3 separate regions of the Homo sapiens genome follow, and all the other regions are linked to region 3. Evidence: fine-mapped expression QTL. A gene starts in region 3. Each other region holds a variant in brackets. All regions are shown on one strand. Distances are between the middles of the regions. Region 1 has its middle 110 kb from the start of WNT7A. Region 2 overlaps WNT7A (Wnt family member 7A). Region 3 holds the start of WNT7A (Wnt family member 7A).

Evidence for each region.
Region 1: its variant is fine-mapped to the expression of WNT7A in whole blood (TOPMed, PIP above 0.99).
Region 2: its variant is fine-mapped to the expression of WNT7A in esophagus mucosa (GTEx, PIP above 0.99).

What each region holds. Positions count from the first base shown.
Region 1 is chr3:13,768,957-13,771,795 of GRCh38, forward strand. No RefSeq gene overlaps it. Among named protein-coding and RNA genes, the nearest start is that of WNT7A, 110 kb to the right of the region's middle. The variant G/C (reference allele first, on the strand shown) is at 1,582.
Region 2 is chr3:13,825,954-13,828,453 of GRCh38, forward strand. All of the region lies in intron 3 of WNT7A (Wnt family member 7A), which reads right to left. Among named protein-coding and RNA genes, the nearest start is that of WNT7A, 53 kb to the right of the region's middle. The variant C/T (reference allele first, on the strand shown) is at 1,326.
Region 3 is chr3:13,878,593-13,881,376 of GRCh38, forward strand. WNT7A (Wnt family member 7A) reads right to left here and starts at 1,479. Exons shown (of 4, transcript NM_004625.4): 1 at 1,154-1,479. The coding sequence starts at 1,224. RefSeq lists enhancers at 1-453, 956-1,457.

The sequences.
Region 1 (2,839 bases), 110 kb before region 3:
CCAGGTATTGGTTCCCAGCAGCCATGGGCTTGGCCTGTGCAAGGCACCTCAGATAAAGAGAGGAGGGGGCCTTGGACTCTGTCTCTGGAGGGAAGGCAAGATGGCTGCTTACTGCTTTGTCTGACAAATAATTCTCGGCACCTACCTGGTGACAGACCCAGTCTGAGCCGGTCTTTGCCTTAGGGAAACTTTCAAAGTGATACAAGAGATTAAAACCTGCTGATGCTATGGGGAGGGAATAACAGTGACCAGCATTTATTAAGCACTTACTGTATGCCAGGCCCTGTTTCCAGTGCTTTTCATGTTTTAACTCACCTAAGGCTCTCAGCCAACCACAAGGTTGGTATTTTCACAGGCTGAGGACACCACACGCAGCTAGGAAGTGTAAACTTAGGATTTGAACCTGGGCTGTTGGGCCCGAGAGCCCCTTTCAGAGAAGGCTGAGGACTTCTGAAGAAGTGTGGCTGCAATGCCGTAAAGGAGAATGGAAGAGGAACTTGGGAGAGGCCTTGCTGTTCCTTCTAGACCACCACCCTCTCCTGCTCACATGCCTTCAGTGACTTCCCAGTGCCTACAGGACCAGTGCAGGGCCTGGGGCTCCTGACCCCCATGCCCTCCGCTGACCTCACCCTTCACGGCTGGCTGTGCCCTTGCCTCCCTCACAGGGCTGTCCTGCCTTTTCTCCCTTTCCACAGGCCCTGCTCTGGCGTCCAATCCCAATCTCCCAGCTTCCCGGGTTAGGGTCAGTCTGAGCAGTGGCACCGTCTCGTGAGTTTCTGGTCCTGCCAGCCAGACGCACTTATGCCAGGAGGTTCAAGGGGTGCTAGTTTTTAAAACTGGGATTGTTTTATCACATTTTATTGTCTTTCTTGGTTAAACCCTTGAGTATACAGTAGATATATATGCATAGCAGAAAACCTGGAAAATAGGACAGTAAAAGACCAGCAAAGACTCAGAATCCTGCAGCCTTCCCCAAGAGTTAGCTGCTATTAACAGATGGGATCTGGCCAGTACACCTTTTCTTTTCTTTTTTTCTAGTAATGCATATTTTTAAAATGCATTTTCCTTTCCTATTTCAGGGTTTGTTCCCCAGGTGATCAGTGAGTCCTTCTTGCTTCTAGCCTAAAACTCTCGTATGGGGTTTTCCCTCCAGAGTGGGGAAGCCCTGAGAAGATGCCATTCTGGGTTGCAGGGTGGGCAAGAAGAGGGTCTTCCCTGACATGCGGTCAGAGAGACCAGGGGTTCTGAGTATCCCATGAAATGAGGACTAGGGGGTCGCTAAGTGACCTCTACAACCTGGAAGGCCCATTCCACAGGGCAGGCGCCTCTGTCTGTCTCGTCCATTCTTTAATCCCCATAGCTACAGCAGTATGGGCTAGGAACAGGCACTCACTAAGTATTTATTGGATGAATGAGGCCGTGGGTTCTGTACAGAGCAGAGAATATGCAGACCAGAGGGGAGAAGGCCTTGCCCATGGCCCTATGCTCAGGAGTCAGGAATCAGAGGCTGGGTTGTCCCTGCACGATGGGGTGGGGGTGGGGAGCCCTGAGGCCAGGATAGGGTGCTGCAGCTTCCTGGTG[G/C]GGTCAGAGGCCCTGCCCAGCCCCCTCCCACCATAGGGCAGAGGAAGTGGAGGCTGCATGTCAGAATGCCTGAGGACAGCCTGGCTGCAGAGCCATTTATCACCTGCAGCAATTCCAGGAATGTGGAAATAGGCCAAAGTCAGAAAAGCTTGGAGGGTGGGAGGCCAAGAGATCCCCCCAACCCCTTTTTTCAAGAAGTAGAGAAGCCCAGAGCCTTGGCACCTGGGATGTGTGTTACCTGAAGAATCAGACTCATGGAGCGTGGGCTAACTTTTGCTTTTAGAGGATGCCCACCACGTGCCTGGCACTGTGCAGTGAACTTCACACCTGGCCATCTGGGGCTAAAGCTTGTGCAGTGATGCCCTGTGCTTTCTTCAAACCTGAGCCAGGCTGGGGCCAAGCTGTCTGCCTAACACCCTGCATAGCTCCCGCCTGCTGAGAGGAAAAGTGGAATTCTCACAGAGGCCACAGCCCTGACTGAGCCAGGTCTCCTCCAGTCTCCCTCCTGCTCACTCTGCTCCAGCTGCTGCCCTGAGCCTGCCTCAGGGCCTTTGCCCCTGCTGTTTCTTCTGCCTGGGGTAAGTCTTCCCCATTCAGCTGCCTGGTTTATTGCTTTGTTTCCAGGGCCCTGATCAGAAATCACTTCCTCCGAGAGGCCTTCTCCGACCACCCTTGTATGAGAAACACCCCTAGCTGCTCCGCAGTCCCCTAGACATGCACTGTCCAATACAGCAGCCACAAGCAATGTGTAGTCTTGAGTACCTGAAATGTGCCCAGTGACAGTCCAGGTGTGCATAATGTCCAGTATGCACTGATTTCACAGACATGGCATGAAAACGACAAAATAACTTATTAATCATTTTTTGCATTGATGGCATGTTGACATGATAATATTTGGACCTAATAGGTTAAATCACCTATATTGTTAATATTAGTTCCATCCGTTTCTTCTTGCTTTTGTCCAAGCAGCTATGAGAAAGTGTAGAATTACACAGGTGCCTCACACACTGGGGCACCATCACCTGACCTGGTTTTCTTCCTGGCCCTCACCCGTCTGCCACATCGCGGGTTTACTTGTTCATCTGTTTATTATCCACCCTCCCCAGGAAAACACCAGCTCTGTGAGGGCAGGGATTTGTGCCCGTTTTGTGGCTGCTGTACCCCACACATGTAGAGATTATGAATGAATGAAGGGGTGCCCTGTGCCCGCATTGTGCTCAAGTGCTTAACCTTGAGGGAAGGCGGGGAGGAAGGGAGG
Region 2 (2,500 bases), 53 kb before region 3:
GGCCAGGTCATTCACCTTGAAATCCCCCGCCTCTGATGAAGAGCCTTGTGTGCAAGCGGTGCTGCCCGGTGTTTGCAAGGGGAACAGGACCTAGGGCATGTCTGTCCACGTAGGCTTTCACTCATGCACCTGTTTCACAGTGAGGACCTACTGTGTGGTATTTGGCGTCACCCCTGCTGGGGAGTTCCCAGGAAGACTATGACACAAGGAGGTGCTGCTCCGGTTTTCTCTGAGCTTCCGGTCCCCACCTTCCCTGAGTTTGCAGTCCTTGCCACCTCTGAGCTTGTGATTCCAAACCAGAAGTAACTGTGGAATTAATAATTCCCCTGAATCTAATCATACATTGGTAAGTGCTATGAAGGAGTGAAAGCAACAGAGAAGGAAACTTGAACCCGTGAGATGCTCCTGTGTGCATCTCAAGGAAGCCTCCCCCAAGAAGGCCAGGGCTGAGCTGGAGTCAGATAACGGGAGGGATAAATTAGAACTGGCCAAACTCAGGTAGATGGGGAAAAGGCATTTCAGATTGGGAAACAGACACAGAGAACTGAAAGAGGGAGCAGGCTTAAGGAAGAGCACATGTTGAGCACATAATGAGGACATTTCAGGCATGGTGAGTGGCCAGAAAGAGGGGAATCTGGGGAGTAAAAGGGTCTTTTGGTGCTACCGAAATCTGACTCCAGTCAGCTCAGGCATCTACAGAGGATAATGTGAGTGCAGGGCCAGGCAGACTTCAGTCCCTTCCACAGAATAAAACAGTGGCTGAAACCAGCCAGAAGAGGGCTAAACATCTACAATTTTTGATATCTAAAAAATTGATTGCAAAATCACAGTATGGGAGAGACTGAGAAAGATTGAAATTGACCACAAGTTCAATATGAGCTAGGAGGCTACTGAAAAGCCAACACTCTGGGGCCATATTAACTAAGGCCTAATGCCCACAATAAAGAAGGGGATGGTCTTCCTATACAGTTTTCAGAACTGGACTATGCCTCAGCAGATGGAAAGAAACAGAGCATGTCTAGAGGAGAGGGCTGGAGGACCCACAGTGAATGAGCTGGAGCTGTTCAGCCTGGAGAAGGTAGTTTCTGGGATCCCTAGTCACTACTCCACAGGGTCTGCAGGCCTGACCCAGGACAGAGTGAGCAGGAAGGACTGTGTCCCAGAGCACAGAGCTGGGACCCCAGTTGTTGGCAGGAGTCAGAGAGCAGTAGATTCCTGCTCAGTCAGAGGGCAACCTCCCCAACAAAGCTCACCAGGGTTCAAGAGGGTTGCTGGTGAGGTAATGAGCTCCCTGTCCTGGAATGTATGTAAGCAGCAGCTGGGGT[C/T]TGTAAAGGGGACTCCTGCACCAGGTTGGGTGGGGCTGCAATCCAGAGCCTCCTCTGCCTGCCAGCCATGCCCCAAACCTGTCTGGAGCAGCAGGAAGGATTTTCTGCACCACTGGAGGGAGAAAAATCAATCTCTTTTTGACAGGTCCCCCAGGAAGTGCCAACAATGTACCAGGTGCTGCCCAGAGCCCGGAATTACTCAGGGTGGGGTTCTCAGGCCTGGGAGGGGACTGGGGAGAAACTTGGCTCCAGAAAATTCCTTGATTCATAATGCCAAATAGATACTATCGAATTTGGTGCTTCTGGGCCTGTCCCAGACCCTCGGGCTGCCCAGGGGACCTAGGGGTGAACTTCCTGGAAGAAGGAAGGATCCTTGGGAGGGGACATCAGACAGCAACCTCTGGCTCCCACAGGGTCCATGCCACATGGTGCTCCTATGACTGGAAGTGTCTGCCACCCTCCATAGCATTCTGAGGGGCATCGAATTTTAAAAACCAAAGGCTTCCCAGCGTTGAACACACTGCTTGCTGTCATCCCTGCCCCCAGCACCCATGGCAGGCACTCTGAAGCACTGGGCGCTCCAGGATCGATCCTGCGCTGCCCTACTCCAGGAATGTGCCCCCATTCATCTCCGCAGGCCCAGCCCAACCCAGCCTTCTACAGCCCTCCACAGTGCCACCTCCTCCACAGAGCCACCTGTCCCAGCCCCACCCAACCCCAGTCCTTATCTTGGTGCCTTGTTTTCTAGCAAGCCCAGTGAGACCTTGGAGCTTTGCAAACAGAGAGTCCTCAATGAGGCCTTTCCTAGCCCCCGAAACTGAAGTAGCCCCACTGGTCATTGCTAAGGATGGGTGACTCAGACCAGTCAGGGCCAAACTGAAGTGAGTCCTGGGGATTCTGCGCACACAGAAGACAAGAGCTGTTGGTTATCTCCCACCAGATACGAACAGGAGGGAATGCAGGGGCCAGAGCTGTGGACAGGCATCGTGCAACCACATGGGGCCAGAGGATGGCATCAACTAGGAAAGCAGAGCTGAGAAATAGAGAGGGGGCAAGGAAGGGGTGCATGCAGCTGGGTCCTGGGAATATCATTTGCACCCTGGATCAAGCCAGACCTGAATTCATCAACCCAAGACCACTGTGTTCCAGGAACTAATGAATACCCTTTGCTCTTA
Region 3 (2,784 bases):
ATCCCCGCTCCAGAGACGTGGACTGGGGAAGTGACGGGGTAGGGGGGTAGTAGTGACAAAACACAAAGGGTCTGCCACGCACATCCCCTCGCCGCAGCCCCTGCGGTCCACCCCTCCTCAAAAGGGATGGTAATGGGTTCACTGCTGGGGGCTGGAGGGGCAGGGTGTGTGAGACCTACCAAGCGGGCCCTTCAGCGCCAGAACCTCTATCCATGCCCAGATCCCCCCGCCCCCACACCGCTCCGAGCCTCACACGCGTTGTCTTAAGTACAAAGGGTGACCGGCTTTGCACAAGCAGCTCCAGGACGCGTCCCGAGCTGCCCCCTCCCACCTTCCAGCCAGAGCGCCCCCGAGCCCCACCTCCACAGAAACGCTAGGTGAAGCCGGAGGGCTGCTCGCGCGCCCGGCCGCCTCTGCTGCCCAGTTCCAGGGGGCGGGGTGTCCCGCCTCTCTCTAGCGCTTGTCTCCCTCTGTGTCTCAGACCGCCTCTCGTCCCACCTTTGTGTGTGTTTGTTGGGGGTGGGACGTGCTGTCCCCTTGGCCCGGGAAGGGGCTCTGGGAGTCTAAGGGCCCCTGGAAATTGGGTGGTGCCAAGGCTCCGAGCGGCGGTTTATGTTTTTGCCAGCGAATGTCCTTCCTCCTGGGTACCTGTTCCCTGTTTGCACGGACCGGCCCCGCCAGCCACCTGGGGACTGCCCAGTCTCTAGGAACGGCTGTGCCGCGCCTCCTGAGAGAGTTCGTCTCGGGCTCCGGGGACTGAGCTCCCCGAGATTGGCTGTGGTCCTGGCTTGATGTTCCTGCTAGACCTGCTGTCCCTATGCCCGGGTCCGAAGGGTCCCCGGGATGGGCTGAACCTTTGCAGCAGCTAGCCCTCCCCCAGAGTCCCTCAGGCTGGAGCGTCCCTACCGGCTGTCTCTGGTCCTGGGGGATTCCAGACTCAGACGTCCTCAGGATGGCCAGTCCCCCTGCCTATATCTCCTGGGGTGTCCTGCGGGGGGCCTTTGTGCGTCCACCGCTCCCACACCGCACCCACCCGGCCTCTCAGAGAAGCTGTGGAAGTTGGCCGGCAGAGGCTCGCAGGCGGCACACCTCCCTCCCCGGGCCGTGCCAACTTTGTCGAAACACGCGCGGAAAGGGCGCAGGCAGCCCTTACCCGATCCGGAGGTAGACCATGCCCAGGCTGAGAAAGAGGTGGCCCAGGCAGCGCCGCGCTTTCCGGTTCATAGTCCCGATTGGCCGCCGGGGCCGCGGGCCGGGCTGTGCTGATCCCGCGGGCCGGCCCCGGCGGGGCAATCAACATAGCCCGCCCGGGAGGCGCGAGCCGAGGCGTCCCCGGGGCCGTCTGTCGGTGCGCCCGTCCGCGCGCTCCGCGCCTGAGCCTCGCCAGGAGCACGGGAGCCACGGAGCGGGAGGAGGGAGGGAGGAGCGAGCGCGGCGTGGGGCGACGCCGGGCTGCGCGCGAGCGACCGGTGCAAGTGTGCGAGACGCGGGGAGTGCGGGGGCGCTGCTGCCTCCAGCCCCCGCCCCTCCCTCCTTTCCCCCGTCCCTCCCCCGCCCCCTCCCCCGCCCGCCTCCCCGGAGCGCCCGCCCAGCGCCCCTGCGCCCGCGGGACAGGGCCGCCTGCACAAGGCGCGCGCTCGCGCCTTTCCATGCGCGCTCCCGGGGGCCCCCTCCCTGCTCCGGGGTGCAGGTGGCAGGCTGGGGAGCACAGCCCGGTTGGAGGCGGTAGGAGCCCGCTCGCCCCCCACCCGTCACTAACTTGCAGATTGCAGGGCGAGTGGGCGTCCAGAGGCTGCCCTCGGGTGGAGTGGACCAGACTCGGCCGAGAGGCCTAGTGCCTTGGTCTGCTGCCCTGCTCCCTCCAGCCCGGAACAGGGAGCTGGGGCTGACAGGGCACACCCCAGTTCCCCAACCCCAGCTTCAGGGGAGGGCGCCCCCTTTCGCGGAGCGACGGGCTGACTGGCTCAGTGTATTTCTTCCCTACTCCCACCTATTCGAGAGTGGCGGCAGGGGGTGCCCAGGTTGGGCAGCCTCCTCTGGGATCCTGCTGTTAGCCGACAGACTGAGTCGGGCTGAGGCCCAGTTGCCCCGCGCGGAACAGCAGTGGGGCGCCTGAGCCGCGGGAGCGTGAGGGGCGCAGCTGGCCGCTCAGAGCGCGCTCGCGGCGTCACCAGGCGGACGCGGCGGGTGGTGCACCTCGGCCTCGCTCCCGGGAACAGAATGCTTTGAGTGCCCTGGCCGACCCGAGGGGGCTAACACCCTTCTTTGGTGTACACCTCATCCAGTGAGCTAGGGGGAGTCTAACCGTCCCTGGAAATTGGGTGGTGCCAAGACTCCGAGCGGCAGTTTATGTTTTTGCCAGCGAATGTCCATCCTCCGGGTACCTGTTCCCTGTTTGCACGGACCGGTCCCGCCTGCCACCTGGGGGTTGCCCAGTCTCTAGGAGCGGCTGCGCCTGCGCCTCCGGAGAGTGTTCCTCTCGGGCTCCAGGGACTGAGCTCCCTGGGAGTGGCTGTGGTCCTGGCTTGGTGTTCCTGCTGGACCTGCTGTCCCTATGCCCAGGTCTGGCAAATCTGAACTCAGGTTTCAGCTGAAGACACTGAGGCTCAAGGAGGTGAAGGTGTTTGCCCAGAGTCACCAGCTAGCGAGTGGCACAACCATATGGGAAACAAAGTATGCCCAACTGTAGTAACCTCCTGCACCCAGTCCTGACTATCCTTCAAGATTGCCTTTCTAAATTACACACACACACACACACACACACACCCGAAAGCCACCATTCAG